Homo sapiens: one gene and its partner. The main gene of each other region encodes a partner of the protein of the gene in region 2 in a complex. Each region holds a gene or a part of one and is shown on either strand. Other genes may lie near its edges. The genes, in order: RBM22 and CDC40.

The links.
Region 1: CDC40 (region 2) and RBM22 share a complex: the UniProt entries of both Homo sapiens proteins name them as parts of the postcatalytic spliceosome P complex.

Annotation. Positions count from the first base shown.
Region 1 is NC_000005.10:150,696,057-150,705,552, forward strand, and holds the start of RBM22 (pre-mRNA-splicing factor RBM22), read right to left. Parts: upstream 5,007-9,496; 5' UTR 4,930-5,006; coding exon 4,876-4,929; intron 4,442-4,875; coding exon 4,388-4,441; intron 3,216-4,387; coding exon 3,186-3,215; intron 2,576-3,185; coding exon 2,443-2,575; intron 836-2,442; coding exon 735-835; intron 650-734; coding exon 477-649; intron 1-476. UniProt on the Homo sapiens protein: Required for pre-mRNA splicing as component of the activated spliceosome. Involved in the first step of pre-mRNA splicing.
Region 2 is NC_000006.12:110,175,380-110,184,224, forward strand, and holds the start of CDC40 (pre-mRNA-processing factor 17), read left to right. Parts: upstream 1-5,047; 5' UTR 5,048-5,065; coding exon 5,066-5,254; intron 5,255-8,845. UniProt on the Homo sapiens protein: Required for pre-mRNA splicing as component of the activated spliceosome. Plays an important role in embryonic brain development; this function does not require proline isomerization.

The DNA of each region.
Region 1 (9,496 bases), on a different chromosome or scaffold from region 2:
TATTCCACTGAGAATCTGATTAAAGCTATGAACCTCGCCCCAGAGAAAGCACATACATTATTTTTTAGGGGGTGGGGTTAACCAATCCCAAATTAAGAACTCCTAATCCAGATGCTTGGCAGTCTTAACCAAAACATACACACCCTTTAGAAGTCTGACCTTACTTTGACTTCAACTATACATTGAGAGTCAACTCATTTAAACCATGGCAGTGAAGATTTACTTCTCAGGCAGAAATGTTTAGGGTCAGCATCTATATTGTATGGCATAGCAATTTAGTTTCCAAGGCTCAATTGTAAGTAAAAACTACAATTTATTCATGCTCTTCTAAATTTCATAGTTCTAAGACATGAGGTATACCACATTAGTTGTATGACCTTTAGATTTTAAAGCAGAAACAGTTTAAGTTAGGACCTCCCACTTCTTAGATGAGAAATCATCTGAAAGCAAATACTGAAAATGAGGCTCGCTCTTGCCTGTATGGACATTCCTCTCCTCTCTTACACTCTCCTTTCACCCAGAAGGAGCAAATGTGGGGTCGATTCCTTTTGTAGTAGGGTGTGGTCCGGGCCAGTTTGAGCAGCATGTCACTGGTAGATGTGGCTTTCCCCAGCATGCCAACTGGCCGTGTTCCATCAGAGTTAGAAATCTAAGTGGGGATGACAAATTCAAAAGATAAATTATACAGACTGTGTCAATTCATTAGGATTTTTATCCAAAAAGTGGCAGCATACCTCTCTCTCCATATTCTGTGTATAGTACTCTTTGTTGACATCTGACTTTGGCATGTCATCTTTAAAAGACAATCCTGCGTCACGAACCTGGATGGGCAGGCCTGGTACAAAAAAAGAGGAAAAAGACCTCAGATGTATTTTAAAACATATCCATACTAACCATGCACACAGAATACATCATCTTTCCCTTCTCCTCTTTCCTATTTAGTACCAGAGACTTTACTATGTTTTTATTCAAACTCTTTAGCACCATCAGGTTACTTCTGCTACACAGCATGCTAAGAAATTGTCCAAATTCCTGAACTGTCAGGAAATTTGATGAAATTAATGCTTTAGAAAAAATCTTTTAGGCTGGGTGTGGTGGCTCATGCCTGTAATCCTAGCACTTTGCAAGGCTGGAGCTGACAGATAGCTTGAGTCCAGGAGTTCGAGACCAGCCTGGTCAACGTGGTGAAACCCCATTTCTACAAAAAATACAAAAATTAGCTGGGTGTGGTGGTATGCACCTGTAGTCCTAGCTACCCAGGAGGCTGAGGTGGATCACCTGAGCTTGGAAAGGTTAAGGCTGCAGTGAGCCATGACCATGCCACTGCACTCCAGCCTGGGCAACAGAGTGACACCCTGTCTCAAAAACAAAAAACAAAAAAATTATAAAAGAAAATTTTTAGATGAACAAACTGTGCCCATGGTCATATTCAACCTGTAAATTAGCTCCTAGTTTTTATTACAACATGATTTATTTAAAGTAAATGTAAAAGTGGTTTCTTTCTAGGTTAGTCTTACAGATCCTCTGGATAGTCACAGTCATCTAAGGGTCACTGTACTCCAGGACCAGACGCCTCCTTAACAAACATATAAATAATATTACATAAAATGTGGCCAGGACTCTGACTAGAAGAGTAACTCTAATGAACTTAACATACATAAACTCATATATTTTTCCCTTTCCTTTAATAGTAAAAACTCTTGTTGAAAAATTATCTTTCTGAAAAACAGTCACCTATGGTTAAAAAAAAAATTACTCCCAAAAGCAGTTACTCTGAAACAGTAGCAATATATCAGTTCTAACAACACAATTGAAATAAAAGTCTAAAGCACAATTAGGCTGGCTATAGTGGCTCTGGGAGGCCAAGGTGGGAGGACTGCTTGAGGCCAGAAGCTCAAAACCAGCCTGGGCAAAATAGTGACACACACACACACGTGCACTGGGTGTGGTGGTATACCAGGAGGCAGAGGCAAGAGGATCCCTTGAGCCCAGGAGTTCGAAGTTGCAGTGAGCTGTGATCACACCACTGTACTCTAGCCTGGGTGTCAGAGTGAGACCCTAACTCAAAAAATAAAATAAAATAAAGCACAATTACCCTGTGAGCTTCTGATTGGGATGGTGGAAAAAAGCTCTGGATCAAGAAAGAAGCCTAAGGCAAATAAATTATCTATCATAGGATCAACGCCTTTTACCTCACTTGGGCTACAGAGATGAAGGTTTAGGCCACTTTTGATTAATTCCCAACTTTTCCTTAAGTTCCTACTATTGTTCAGGACTCTAGAGTGGCCTAATTATGGTTCTTTTCCTGGGAAAAGCAGACCACGGCAGACATTCCAAAGTGAAATCAGAACCAGAGCTAGGGTGCGAAGTGGGAGACAAAAGACTGACTTGTAGTTTTAGGCACCTGCACACTTTCAGATTTATTGGACAGGTCAAACATACCATACTCTAGGTCTAAGAGGCAGGTCTGACAGACATTCTTCAATTTACTGCAGGTTTGGCACACTTCAGTCTTCTTGAAACGCATGCGGACTCCAGGGCACCAGCGAAACACTGTGAATGGCCTGGCACAGATCTGGAACACAAAGCAAGAGCCATAGAATGTCAATGGTCCTGATCTGGGCAATCTGGAGATCTGATAACAACGGGGCATTCAAAAAAGGATCCCTGAATGTAGGATTTAGAAGAGACCTTAGCAATCATCTAGTTGATTTGATGTTTCAATACAATTTTCAGCATCCTTCTCCAGCAAAAATTCAGAGTACAGAAATGAAATAGCCAAAGGGTCAAAGTTCTTCCCATCCTAGAGCTAAGCACCAATAATAATCTGAACCTTAATCTTTTTTAGGGGGAGTGGGGAGTGTCATGTAATTTTTTGAGAAGCTTCTGACAAGAATGACCTTCCTCCTCAGCTAAAATGCTCGAGTGGACAGTCATACACCACCTGGTGTACAAACTCCTCCAGTGCCCATCCACTGACACCGTAAGAATCTCTACATTAGAGGGTTCATTTTCTTACCTCCCACATAAACAGTTGCCAGCCAATGAATATATCAGTAATACATAAAAAGTTGTATAGCACTGATTTTTACTGGAAGACCTCAAAACTTAGTAAGCTGAAGGCTAATTTGGTAGAGAAAAGAAAAATGAAACAGAAATCATTACTCTTTAACAGACATACTTACTTTGCATTCCTTCCCATACTTTTCTTTGGTCTATAATAGAAAAAAAATAGAAAAGAACTGGAGTTACAGAAAGAAAAAAGCCAGATGTCTACTCTTTCCTTAAACATAACCCAAGAAATGTGTCTGGAAATCCCTGGCATCCTAGAGAGAGAAAAACAGCAACAACAAAACCCAAAACCCAACCTTTTTTGGGAAGAGGGTAGGGAACATACTATAACAACATATTATAAGTGATAACATCTCAAGAGTATATGGATCTGGGCTGGGTGGCAGTGGCTCACGCCTGTAATCCCAACACTTTGAGAGGCCAAGGTGGAAGGATTGCTTGAGCCCAGGAGTTCCAGACTAGCCTGGGCAACATAGCGAGATGCTGTCTCTACAGAAAAAAGAAATAGAGTATATGCATCTAATGCTAGGTAAGTGAGTGTCTTTCCACAGCCACAACTCTTAGGTTCATTTTTGGCTCCCAAGTTCACTCCCAAGAACTAACATTCCTAATGCTTTCCACAATCCCTAAATCAGAGAGGATACAGCTGTGGCCCGCCCACTTTACAAAGTTTAGTCAAAAGGTAGCTACTGTAGACTTGTCCTGTGCCAATGCCCGGAATATAGTAAATGTTCTGTTTAAACAGAACTATTCAAACATCTTGAACCATTCAAACATCGTGAACATACTAACATATCAACACCTCTACGACTACACAATAATACAGCCCTAACCTTATTATTGTTAACTGGTTCTAATTTTACCCTAGTTTGTAACAAAGGGGGAATGCTTACTTTAAAGAGATAAAGTACACTGGCCAAAAGGCATTTGACCAGGATTCAGGAAACCTAGTTTCTAGTTCTGGTTCTCCTCCTATCATGCTGACATTCCTAGAGCCAGAATATGTGAACTTAAATCCCAGCTCCATTCCTTACTATTGTATGAAAAGACACAAACGCTCTCACCTTCTGGTCAACAGACCTATTTCCTAGGTAAATGCTCAACAAATACTAGCTATCGTTATTACCCCTACATTACAGGAGTGTTACCGGATTCGTAAGAGAATACACATGACAGTTCTTTGCAAGTCGTCCAGCACTTCGCGTTAGTAAAAGAGCATCATTTTTTCTGCTTGTCTAAGAGAAACACTTCACAGTGTGCAAGTACCACAACATCGACAGGACATGAATAACTCGTTTCACACGCGATCACTCACCATTCGGATATATGGGTTTTCTCCAAGACATGTCTGGCACAGAATGGGGAAGTCCTGGTGAAAATGGGAAATCTGGTTGAGGACCACCCTCCGAAGACCCTGACACCTCAGTGACACTTGGGGTGGCGAGGGGGCGGGAAGCGAGGGTGGGGAACTAGGCACGGCAGGAACCCGAAGTCCATCACGACCCGATCGCGGGAGGGGGCGCTGTCTGCACTTCCGGCAGGCGGCGGGAGAAAAGAAAACCAGCTCTAATAGGCTGGAGGGGGCAGGGATGGAAAGGGTGCTGGTCCCGGGACCCTGGCTAAGCCCCCTCCCTTCAAGCCCGCAGGAGGATCGCCCTCCGCCCTCCTGCTCCGGCCAAGCTAGGCCGCCGCGCTGGCTCCTCCCCGGTATTCCTTCGGCCGCGCCGCAGGCCCTGTCCTGCCAGCTTGCAAGGTGCGCGGCTTCGCCTCCTCCTTCCATCCTCCTCCGGCAGGCACACTCACCGCATCCTCCCAGTTCTGCCTGTTGTAGGTGTTGGAACCCAGAGAGGTCGCCATCTTGAGAGCGTCCGGAGGTAGCTGTAGCTTCCGAATTGGGAGAGAGGACCGCCACAATCCCGTCAAGCCCCGAGGCTAGCGCCGCGCCGGTCGGCGTCTTATTTACGCGTCTAGGGCTTCTTCCGGGGCGGGGCCTTTGCGTCATGACGTCGCCCGCTCTTGGAATTTCTAAGCTTAACAATTGGGGTCCTGGTATAATGCACCTGGATGCTTCCTTCGAGTTTTTGCCTGCTTGGAATGAAGGGCCACACGTACAGTTGATTCATTTAACAATTGGGCGAAAGAATAAAGGAAGACGTAATGCATCAGAGGCTGGGGTTAAAATAGCGTTCGCTACCACTGAGGCGCTTATTATGCCAAACTCTGGGCGAACGTCTTGCGGTTCCAGTGTCTTATTTATTCGCATAACCTCTCTGTAGGGCTCTCTGTAGGGCTGCCAGATTCTGATTCTGTCTCTCTCTCTCTCTCTCTCTCTCTCTCTCTCTCTCTGTCACTCACACACACACATGCACACACACACACGCACGAATTACAGAACGTCTAAAGTTGAATTTCAGATTAACGGCGAATCGCTTTTTAATTATAAATATATATGGTACCTACTCGTCCTAAAGTAGGATTCGTGGTTGACCTGAAATTCACATCACTTAACCAATCGTCCTGTATTTTATCTGGTAACTCTACCCTGTAGGCAAGTATGATGATCCCTCTTTTATAGAAAAGAAAACAGGTTTAGAGAGATTAACCTAATCTCTCCTGATATAGCTCCTGGTTGTGGAGCTAAAAAGTGGTGAAGCCACAAATTCATTAGTACTGTTTCATTTCCAGCTTCTGAAATGACAAGGGTCTTACGAATCAACATATGCATTATTTGATTTTTGGAATAACTCATAACCACTCTGCCAATATTTTATGAGTTTCAAGCCATTCTGGTACCACTTTCATACTTACCGTGTCATCAAGCTACCTAACACATTTATTTAAATCACCTCATTAAAAAAAAAAGTTGATTTAAAGTATAATTTACATAAAGTTTTATCCTTTTTAGTTTTGAATTTTGTACATACATTCACTTACAGTCAAATATGGAATTGTCTGTCATCCCCAAAGTTCCCTTGTTTCTGTAGTTAGTCCACTTATCCCATACTCAAACCATGGCAATCACTAATTTGTGTTCTGTCCCTAGTTTTGCCTTTTCCAGAATGTCACATAAGTGGAATCCTATATATCCTTTTGGATCTGATATTTTTTCACTTAGTATTTTGTAGTTGAGATTCATCCATATTATTACATGTATCAATAATTTCTTCCTTTGTATTACTGAGTAGAATTCCATTGTATGGATATATCATACAATTCACTTGCCAGTTGCTGGATATTTGGGTTGTTCCCAGATTTTAGTGAATATAAATAAAACCATTATAAACATTCACATACAGATCGTTGTATGGACATTGGTTTTCATTTTGCTTGTGTAAATGCCTTAGAGTGAGATTATTTGATCATATGGTAAGTATATCTTTTCCTTTATAAGAAAGTCCTTGGGTTTATCTGAGCTTCTTGGATCTGTGATTTGTTGTCTTTTATTATATTTGGAAAATTCTCAAGTATCATCTCTTCAGACTGTCTTCTGCCTGGTTTCTACATCTGTGACTCCAATTTCACATGCCTTGTGAGGAGTGCAAGGTCAGAAATAACAGAGTCCACGTACATTTGTGTTTTTCCACAATGCCAGACTTTTACTGATGCTATTTCAATCACAAAAGCCACGAACTACATGGAGTTTCCAAGAAAGCAATTCTCCTTAGTACTTCCCACTCACTCAGCACTCAGAGTCTTGGACACACAGGCTCAAGGCACTCCACAGGTCAATCAATATTGCAAATCATGCATAATGGTATACTTAATCAACATATATATTATAGAGTGAACATTCCACAAACAAAATAACATTTAACATTAAGAGAAAAGAGATAGGACCCTTTTCTCCTTTAAGTCTGGAGCCCTCAGAATCATCTCCTTTCCTTCCTTTTTCCCTCTTTCCTCCCCCAATTTATTTTTTAATCTTTGTGGGACATGACTTCTAGGAATGAGCCTTCCTAGCAACATGGAACATGACTTCCTAGGAATGAGCCTTCCTAGTAACGTGAGACCTGAATTTCCTGGAATAAACCATCCTAGCGACAAGAAACCAGCTCAAAAAAGGAGGAAAAAGCGAACTGAGGCCAGGAACACATATTCCTTTTAAAATGCTTTCTCCAAAAGATGTTAAAGAAAAAAAGGGGGAAATGTGAAAGGAAATTAAATCTTGGGACCCCAGACTCATTAAGCCAAAGGGAAAAGTCAAGCTGGGAAGTGGGTCACACAAACCTGCCTCCCGCTTTTGGTTCCTAAATAAGATGGCTACAAGATGGAAAGCTACATGCCTCCCCCATATTTTGCCCACAAGGAAATTCCTAGTGAGGAATTTTACTTTCCTAGAAAGGAAAAAAGAAAAGAGATGAAAAAATATATATAGGGACTAGGCCAGATTTATAGCAACAAAAGGAAAGCAAACCTGGAAGCTGGGTCAAGCTTTATTATATTACTGCCTCCTCAATTAAAGCAATTCTCTGGGCAATCATTACCTTAGCCCTTTCGGTTGCATATTGACTTATTTGCAAACACGTACTATAACAACATTGTAAGCAGAAACAGGACAGAACATAAATTATTCCTTCTATTATAAGCAATAGCTTCTGCCACTAAATTCCCCAGGATCCAAACCAACCACTCAAGCAATGGATTAGTGAGGGTTTTGGATCTGACAGTTGCTTATCTGGGTTTTCATACTGGTCATAATTCAGTTTATGTTCTTTGATTCATCTGGAATATACACACAACATTCAGTTTTTACGGTGGCACAGGTTCCCCTTGTGCTGCCATGAGTATATCTAAAGCCACATAGTTTTGCAACACAGCTTTCCTCATAAGCATGACCTCATTGCTTAGCAAAGAGGTACTCATGCAGCTACCATTTAGGGCCTTTGGGTGTAATTCGTTATGGCCTCTATATGCCATATAACATCTTCGATACCTATCTGTGGTACAAAGATTGAAGCTAAGTGATCATAGCACTGGAATACCAAACATGTCCAATGAGATTGTAAATGAAAAAGGTTTGCTGGTTTAATGGAAGGGTCTGAATTACTGGGCAACATATGGGGGAGGCATGTAGCTTTTCATCTTATAGCCATCTTATTTAGGAACCAAAAGCAGGAGGCAGGTTTGTGTGACCCAGTTCCCAGCTCGACTTTTCCCTTTGGCTTAATGAGTTTGGGGTCCCAAGATTTAATTTCCTTTCACAATATATATAATCCATATTTTCCTTTTCTTTTTTTTCGAGATGGGGGTCTCACTTTGTCACCCAGGCATGATCATAGCTCACTGTTACCTGGAATTCTTGGGTTCAAGGGATCCTCCAGCCTTAGCCTCCCAAGTAGCTGTGACTATAGAAGCAGGCCACGGTGCCCAGCTAATTTTTAACTTTTTTGTAGAGACAGGGTCTCACCATGTTGCCCAAGCTGGTCTCGGAACTCCTGGGCTCAAGTGATTCTCCAGCCTTGGCCTCCCAAAGTGCTGGGATTACAAGTGTGAGCCATGGCACCTGGCTCCATGTTTTCCACCAGATTTTTTAACATTGTAGGGGCCAACAGAAAAGTTCCCCTTTGCCCTCTTAAGATTCACTGAAAATTAACTAGCAAAAGGCAGATTAATAGGAGAAAAGACATACAAATTTATTTGATCATAGTTTTACCTGACATAGGAGCCTTCAGAATGAAGACACAGATGGGAAATTGTCCATTTATATGCCTAGGTTCAACAAAGTATGGACAGCTATGTAGAAATAGGATTGGACAAAAAGCGTACTGATTTAGCGCTAATAGACTGAGTGGGGAAACCCAGCGAGGCCTGTCTGTCTAGATTCTTGGCCTCTCTCGGCAGCATTCCTTCCTTCTGGGTATGTACAGGACCGTCTTTGGAATGGGGGTCTTATGACCTACAATCTAAAACAAAGTAGCTCAGATAATTTATTCAGAGCCAGTTTTTACACAAAAGCAAGGCGGAAGTTAGAGTAGTTTTTTTTTTTTTTTTTTTTTTTGAGACAGAGTCTTGCTCTGTCGCCCAGGCTGGAGTGCAATGGTGCGATCTCGGCTCACTGCAACCTCCACCTCCCAAGTTCAAGTAATTCTCCTGCCTCAGCCTCCTGAGTAGCGGGGATTACAGGCACGCACCACCATGCCTGGCTAATTTTTGTATTTTCAGTAGAGACAGGGTTTCATCATGTTGGTCAGGCTGGTCTCGAACTCCTGACTTTGTGATCCACCTGCCTCTGCCTCCCAAAGTGCTGGGATTACAGGTGTGAGCCACCGCGCCCGGCCTAGAGTAGTATTTTACATTTTATGGCTGGCTTTGGGGAAAAGGGGTTCTCTCTATGACCCACCTTGAGGAAAAGGGATTCAGTGTCTGTGGCTAGGCTTGGGGAAGAATGAAGGGCCAGAGACAGGAAGGCAGAAGGTCAGAGAGA
Region 2 (8,845 bases):
GCCTTTAAGAGACTAAAAAATCTTGCTTCTGAGAACAGGCACGTGTGAAAGGATCAAGACTACTTTCTTTTTCAGAGGTAGGTCCAGAAAGAAGAAATGTCCTCATAAGAGGGACGTAAGCGGTAACTTTAGGGAAAATGAACTCTCAGGAAAAAAAGGGGGTTACACCAAGCTTCGAAGTATCTTAGAATTTTATTTGTAGCTAAAACAGATCTCCGAAGTCATCTACTTCTACCTTTTCATTTTATAATCAAACATCTTGAGAAGTAAAGTCACGCAGAAGACTGCATTTCCTTCTAATTTTTGTCATGCCCTAACTTCTTGTCCCAGATAATGTAAGCCTATGCCACTCACTGAACTGAGAAACAGCCTCCTCTTCAAGTCCACTGGGTGAAAGAGAACAAGTTCCTAATAATGTTGTCATGTCTAACACAAGAGTTACAGATCCTAGCATTTCAGGGTACATCTGAAACTTATTTTTCCCATAGAAAGACTGTCATACAAATTATTATAGGTATTTTAATATACTTATGCTAATTATTAACATAATTTTATAATTTCTTTAGTATTAACATAATCCTATAATTCAGGTATTTTATTATTTAAATAGGCTTTAGTGGGCTGTCTGTGACTCTAACCACTAAGTATACTGTTTCTGAGAAAATAAGACTCAAGTTCCAAACCATTTTACAAGTTGTAAAATGTAATCAATTGTGTAGTAAGTTAGAACTACCAATTCACAAAGACTCAAAATTATAAGCTGAATGTGATAAACTTAAAACACAAGATTCTTAATTTTATAAAAAGTTCCACTTCAGGGGTCATTTATTTTTAACAACTAGGTACTCAAGCATTCAGCATAGGATTTAATTTACATATATCTTTTTTATTACTATTTCACTAGAAAACGTAAGTCACAAAGAATCAAACACACTTCTATCTAGTGTAGGAAAAACAAAAAATATGTTAACATACATCTTCATAAAGTGAGCTATAAGAAGAAAATTGTTAATATTTCATAAATCAAAGACTACTAACATATACATTATTAAGTATCTAGTGCCAGTTCAAAAGTGTACAGGTAATGGAATTATATCTGAGCAGGTAAATGGAGTTCAAAGAACCTTGAAATTCATTTTTCTCTTTTCTCCTGAGATAAAGTTATACATTTCATTAATTATAATGTTTGATAAATCTTTAAAAATGTTTCACTAAATATATTAATTCAATGGATATTCTTTACCCATTCATTTTATTTGTTCAACAAAGAAAATTGAGCCCCTGCTATTTGTTAAACACTATACTAACAACTTTGGATTTATGACAATAAGCTGCAGGTCAGTTTCTCTCCTCAAAGAACTAAGAAAAACCACGACTTTACTGCATTTACCCAAGTGACGGTGTCAGCTAAATTTTAATTCATTTAAGAAAACATTATAAAACAAATTCTCAAAAACGAAACCATACAATAGTAACTTTAAACACACTTTAATAGTCTTATCTATATGAAGTTTTCTCACAAAGTAACCAAAAGCACTGTTTTGGTAAAAGTGCTAATAACATAATCTTTTGATAGTAGTCCAATAAGGAAATCACAAGGTACTATGTACTGTGATAATGAAAATCCAACACTTGGAAAAGATATCTTAAGTTATTCCTAAAATAAAGCAAAATGTATAATTAAATATAGTCTTATACAATATTAAAACTGTCTCTGAATATATGAATATTTACAAACATGAGTAATAAAGTAACTCTATAGCATACCTTATAAATGATCACAACTATGTATTTTGGATTGTAACACCTGCAAATTTGTAACAAAAAGGGCCTTAATATTTTTCGAATATATTATTCTTCACTAACTTAATTCAATATTCTACTTATTATCAAGTCATAATTTTTGTTTACTATTAACTATTTTATCTATATGTTTAACTATATGTAGGTATTAACTGTAATAACCTTTATGTCTGCAATTATTTAAAACCCTTGATAGATGAGAAACATTTTTCAGTTCAGAGGCATACCTCTCCAAAGCAAAAATCAATGTTAATCAGCCATTCTAATATGCCATGGAAAATCCTGACATTTTTTCATTGTATTTTTCACAGAAATTTTTTAATCATTCATCAGCTAAAAGATTTAAATTTTCTTTAAAAGGACTACAAAAACACACCTTTCCTGAATTTATGCACACTACCTACTAAATATTATCTCCATTTACATATAAGGAAACCAAGGCACAAAGGTGTCCATTTTGTAAATTGCAAGGTCATTTCCTAACCAAGCAACTAATCCTACACCATCAACTTATATTATATGTACGCCACTTCCAAGTGCCATAAAACAATTACTATACCTTAAAACTGCCTCTGCAATGCTTATGTGATTCTCTTTTATCAAAAGGGTAAATGCAACAAGCTTAAACAAGGAAAGATGGAAAAGGAAAATTATAAAAATACAACACTTACTTTTTATAGTGAATCATTTATTTTTAAATAATGAGATGTAAACAGTTTTTAACATAAAAATCAAGTAACCAACAGTGGTTTCTTATATTTGCAAAAAAAAAAAAATTTCATCCTTCAGGTAGATCACGCAAAACTGAAGCCTACTCATACTTGTAGATTCAAGTTAGAAAAAAAAAAACTGGATTCTAAAACAAGTAATTAAATACATGATATTGCAAAGAAAAAAGTGAATAAAAAATAAAATCAGATAAATTAGGGAATGACTGATATGATGGTTAAAATCCTCATCTTAAATATTAAATCCTTCCATTCAATGGAAGGCAACGATTAGTAATGACATATTCTGCTACCGAAAAACAAATACAAAACTTTTCTTATTCAAAACTTCCGAAATTTTATATCAAATACTTCATTCAAATATTCAATATAAACAAAAATGTTTCCTAACAGAAACTTAGAGCATAAAGGATAAACTGTTCCTGAGAGTTCAAATTGAGACTGCATTTCTAATTATGATATAATGCTATGAACAATCAGAAAAATGAATGTTACCTACCATGCAAATTTAAATTTAAGAACATTAGACGGATTGAATAACCAATAAGTCAATTACATCAATTAGTGAACAGAAAAAAGACCTTAGCTAATCGTGAATCTAACACCAAAGAAAAAATTTAAGTCGAATCCACCGCACATCTTATTACATAGAAAAGGAAATGATTAGAGTAAGTCGTATTTAAGTACCTAGTCTAGCTGGGGATCAATTAATTAATCGGTTATAGGGCAGGACGTGAATGTTGAGATCGGATGTGCTTTCTTTCATCGTTATTCCAGTTCATCATCCGCAAGTGCAAGAGAAGGTGTCAGAGTACCGAAGCTAGGGGGCATGCTGTAGCAAGGGGAAAAGAAAAATGGGAAAGGTGCAATGGATGCTGCATAGTTGAATAATTATCTGGGTGGCACAATGGGCGAGTCCTGCCGACATGAGCGCTGAGTGAGCGGCTCCGTAACTCTGCCCAAGGCAGCCCCCATGAACAGGCACCAGAAGCGACAGCACCGCTTCGCCTCCCCTTCCAACGAAGAAAAGGATGCCCGCACTCGCTTTACCGTTATGTTTTCAGACACCGACTCGCGGAGCAAACACGCAAACGCACGAGCTCGCTTTACCGAGCCTCGCGCACGTAGGGCGAGCAGGGGATTCTCTGTCGCCCGGGGCTACCGCCTCCCCCGGAAAGAGGCACGGGGCGGACCGCGGGCGCGGGTGGGCAGGGAAGCCCGGGCGGTGGCACCTCAGGTGACACCCACAGTCTCTCCAGCGAGAGCAGCCCCGGGGCGGTCCCTGCAGCCAAGCCCCAGGCGCGCCCGCCGCCGTCTCCCTCGGCACCCAGCCCCGCTGGCGGGTGGGCGGTGGGCGCTCGGAAAACCCGCGGATGGGGGTGGGGGCCGGGGCGGGGAAGGCGCGCCCATCCATCCCCGTCACCTTTGCGGGCCACACACCACTCGGTCTGCTCCGGCCAGTAAGGAAGAGTTCCTCTCCCAACACCCCCTCCCCGAAAAAAGCAATTCCTCAGGGACTCGCGCTCACCGTGAAATCTTGGGGGCTCACGCCTTACCCCTTCTTCATGCTTCGGCAGCGGTCGCCGGTCCCCCTCGGCTCGCGGGACTCCGCCTAGAGCCCCCAGGAGGGTCGGGCTCTGGGGCGGAACCCGCTCAGGGCAGCGGCCCAGGCGCCAGGCCACAGGGAACGCCGCCTGGGGCGCCAACCCGCCGCCGGACCCACCGTGTGCTCGACGCGCGAGTGAACAACACCGCGAGCTGCCGTTCCCCCCGCCCCCTCCCCGCGCGAGACGCTCCACAACCGGGCGCAGGGACCCGCGCCAGAAGCAGGGGGGACCGCGAGACTCTTTCCGCCTATGGTCCCATCCTTGCCCCCCGCCCCAGGAGCTATTCCTGGCCAGTCAGAGGTCTCAAAACTTCAGATTCTCACTTTCCTCTTCAGCCTCCAGTGCCCAGGTGCAGCCGAGGTGGGAAATCCAGCCTCCGCCCACTCCCCCATTAGTGGGGCCGAAGCTCGCTCTTCCCCCCTTTCCTGAGGTTCTGTGGTATTGCCCAATCCTCAGTTTGGGGGAGGGGGACGAAGAGAACACTGCTTGGCTAGGGAATGAGGGAAGATGATAGCCAATTGAATGGAACATCCATTCGGGGGCGGGGTCAAAGGGGGACACGCCCCCGTTCCGCCCCCTCGTTGCAAACTACACTTCCCATTGTGCCCTCTCGCGCTTCCTGCCGCGCTGCACGCTGGGAGTGCAGGACCGCGAGGCCTCAAGGTATTTTGGAACTCATATTCTTTAGTCAACTAGGTCCTAAATGTTATAAACTATTATAATTCTCCCTTTTTCCCTAGATAAACTTTTTTAAGCTCTCAGCTCGACAGTAGTTATTCTAATAATAATTAGCTTATTGTTTCAAAATGTAAGACATTATTTCTTAGCAAAGAAAGTTAATGATGTGTTCCATTGCAATCTGTCAGGACCTGGGAGCCTCTTCTTCTTCCGCCCTGGCAGGGTCTCCGCAGAAGATTTGTTGCCGTCATGTCGGCTGCGATTGCAGCTCTGGCCGCTTCCTATGGTTCGGGTTCAGGGTCCGAATCGGACTCGGACAGTGAGAGCAGTCGGTGTCCGCTGCCAGCCGCCGACTCCCTCATGCACTTGACTAAATCGCCTTCATCAAAGCCGTCTCTAGCAGTGGCAGTGGACTCGGCTCCGGAGGTGGCAGTTAAGGTAAGCACTTTTGCTACTAATGCAGTGTGGGAATTGTTGGCTTCAGCTCCAGAACTGCCAGCCGCTTGTTAGGTACCGGGTTACCTCTTTCTCAGTGCTCAGAGATAAGTTGCTAACGTTTGAATTTCTTCTCCTTCCCACATGCATCCTCGGGAGAGGCAGAATTGGAAGTTCGGAATAGCCCTCCGATGCTCTCTGCCCTTGCCTCCCGCCATCAGAAAGCAAGTGGAAGGAGGGGATGAAATTTGAATTTGTGGATTAGGGACATAGCCTGGAAAGTGCAGGTGTAATCTCGGAACATAAGTGAAATTAGATCAGGACTTCCCAAACTAGAGTATTGTGTGAGCAGTGGCCTCGATTTGTCTTATTTTTGAAGAACTAGGTTCTAATCCTGGCACCACCACTTGTGTGAACTTGGACAAGTTATGCAGCCTCCTTTCTTTCCTCACCTGTACAGTGGAGATCATTTTCAAAACATCTGTCTACATGAAAAGATGAGTGTGAAAATTGAGTGAAATTACACAAATAAAGCATATAGCACAGAGCCAACTAGTGAGAGTGCAGTAAATGTTTTATGATTGTGTGTGTTAATACAGTGAGAAAAAGGCCTTGGATTTGAGAAACAGCTGCATGATCTCAATGGAGGAAGCTGATTAATAAGGCAAGAGTTTCCAGGCAGAGGTGACAGGCAAGCCTGAGAACGCAAAGAGCCTAGTGGGTTTGAAGAACTGAGGAAAAGCTGATGTGTCTGGAGCCTGATGAGAGCATCTACCAATTGGTAGTGTAGGCCCAGTAGAGCCCGAGGTAGGTGATCAGCTCAAGATGTGAAGAGGGGAGGCGGTGTCCAAAAATTCCTTTGTATCATGTCCCCAAGTCTAGTTTAATGACTTAAGAAGTGTTTTACAGGTTTTTAACAAGCTGTATGTGAATTTTACTTTTTAAAAATGGACATCTGTCATGAAAGAATGCTTAGAATCCTCCTAACTTCCTATCAAAACAAAACTTTCCAAACTTAAGCCCCTCCAGTAACCTCCTGAGTCTTCTCCTTTCACAGCTCAGCTTTTTGGAGCTCTCTTTTTGTCTTCGTCTCATTTTCTCCTCAACCCAATGCAGTCTGGCCCTATCCTCTTGGGAAACTACTGTCTGTGAGTGATGTCCCAGGCCTTCCAGTTGTCAAGTTCAGCCATCTGACTTAAATGTCTGCATCAAATGACACTGTTCATTAGTTCCTCTTTCTTGAAACTTTCTCTCCGTTTCGCTTCCATGGGGCTCTACTCAGCATTCTGTTCCAATTATTTTACTCTCCCTTTTCAATACTGGTGTTTCCCAGGACTCTGCTCTTAGTCCTCTTTGCATTCCACATATTCTCCCATACCTTCAACCTCAGGCTGTGCTGCTTCTAGCTCAAGGTGAACACCGTGAAATGGTTAGCACAGGCTCTGGAATTAAGACTGTAATTCAAATCCTGCCTCCAGCACTTACCCACCTGGGGACCTTGGATAAGTTACTTAAATGCTCTGTACCTAATTTTTGCTGATCTGTAAAGTAGGAATAACAGTAGTACCTATCTAACAGAATTATAATAATTGTCATAAAAGATGTAAAGCCCTTTTAACAGTGCCACACACAATGAACACTAATTAAATGCTTGCTATCCTTTTATTTCCAGTTCTATCCTCCTTGCTAGCTTACGATCTTGAGAGGTATATAAAAATCTCCCACAGTAATTGTACATTTGTCTTTTGCAGGTTGGCGCTCAGCCACCTCCAATTCAGTGTGTCGAAAAATTATTTTCTTTCCCTCAAAATCCACTTCTGTTTTTCCTATTTTGATCTGTCATCCCACAATCCACCCACTAGTTGAAGCCGAGAACAAAGAAGGTATCCTTTTCTCTTCCTTCTTCCTCAGCCCCTGAAGCTAGTCATTCAATTGATTCTAACATTGCTGTTTCATTAATTTCTCTCACATCAACTCCTTCCTTGCTATTTTCACTGGTGCAGGCTTCATATCTTCCTTATTTCTCCCAGGAGTTATTCTTTTCTTTCTCTTTCAGCCTTTTTGGGTAGTGGGTTCTGTCCACTTTAACTCAATGATATTCATCAAATCTCTCTCTTCTGCTGCCACTGTTTAGTTCAGATTCTCATCATTTCTCTTCAGACAGTTGTAGCCTTCTAACTGATCTTTCTACTTCTTCCTTTCTTGTCTCCCAGTTTTATACCCCATTCTTTTCTCCACAGTGCACTTAGAATGATCTTTGTAAATTCCACTTACATCGTATCACTTCCCTGCCCAAAGACACCATGTTGTCCAATGGGTGATTTCTAAGTTTTTTTGGTAGCATGTGAGTCCTGCTATTCTCCCATGCTGAACTCTTTACAAAGCCCTGAAAGCCGAATTTTCTTTCTTCCTCTGAAGATTTTGCCCACGCTAGTCTTTCTGCCTGGAAATCCCTTGCCTAGTGCCTCCTTCCCCCACTCCAAACACTGTGGTCCTTCAGTCTCAGTGTATATGTTTCCTCCTATTTTACCTTAGCCCCTTTATCATATCTTAACTATAGCACTTAGCACATTGCTGTAACTTGTTCATCTTTTTCTTTCCTCTGGACTGTGAGACCCTGGGGTCCAGAGACTGTTGTATCCATTCGTTTGTGTCTCCAGTGCCTAGTACACAAGATTAGGGAAGTATATTTGGTAAGAGAATGGAATGAAAAAGAAAGTCTTGTAAAAGTATGCACATTAAGAATCAGAATTTTAGAGCTGGACATGCAGTGGCAGGGATGGGGGTGTTTGTCTAGAGCTCACTTAGTGCAATCACGAATAAATAAGGGAACCCAGGAGGAAAGGCTGCGTAAGGTACCAGAAGTCCATTAGAGGTAGAGCTGGGGCTAGTCCACCCAGTGGTCTGGGTTCTATGAGAGCGTAGAGGGCATTGCTCATTGTTGGTTTATGAACCAACACTTGTTTATATGAAGGGAAAACAAACTTACACATAGTAAATATAATGATTGCAAATGATTGGAAAATTGGAAAATGACCAAGGGAGATGTGAAGCATGCAAATATATTCATCTGTAGTTGACTAATTGTATTATGATTAATAGCAAGCATTTTGGCAGAGAATACATTTTTGCAGCGTTTTTAATCTATGTTTTTTCCGAGCTGTTTCCTGCAGTTGAGTATCTTTTAATATGTTATTGGTGATTTAATTTTTTTTTCTTTGGAAGCAACTATTGGGTTGTCATTTCCTTTTGATTTTTAGAAGACCTTTACATATTCTGGATACTATCCTTTGTCAATTGTGTGTGTTGCAAATTTTTTTTCTTTTGTGACTTGTCTTCTCACTTTTCCCTGTTGTTTACAAACAATTATTTATGTAGTCTGTGCTTGTCAAATTATTCCTTTATGTATCGGGTTCCTGTTGCTTGTTTGAGAAATCCTTAACTCATAGTCATGAAAATATTCTCTTGTATTATCTCTTGAAAGCTTTTCACATTTAAGTCATTAATCCATATGAAATTAACTTTTGTCTATAGTGCGAACATTCTTAATAATATGGCTTGATAGGTGATAGGGCAGTTCCCTTGCCCTTTTTT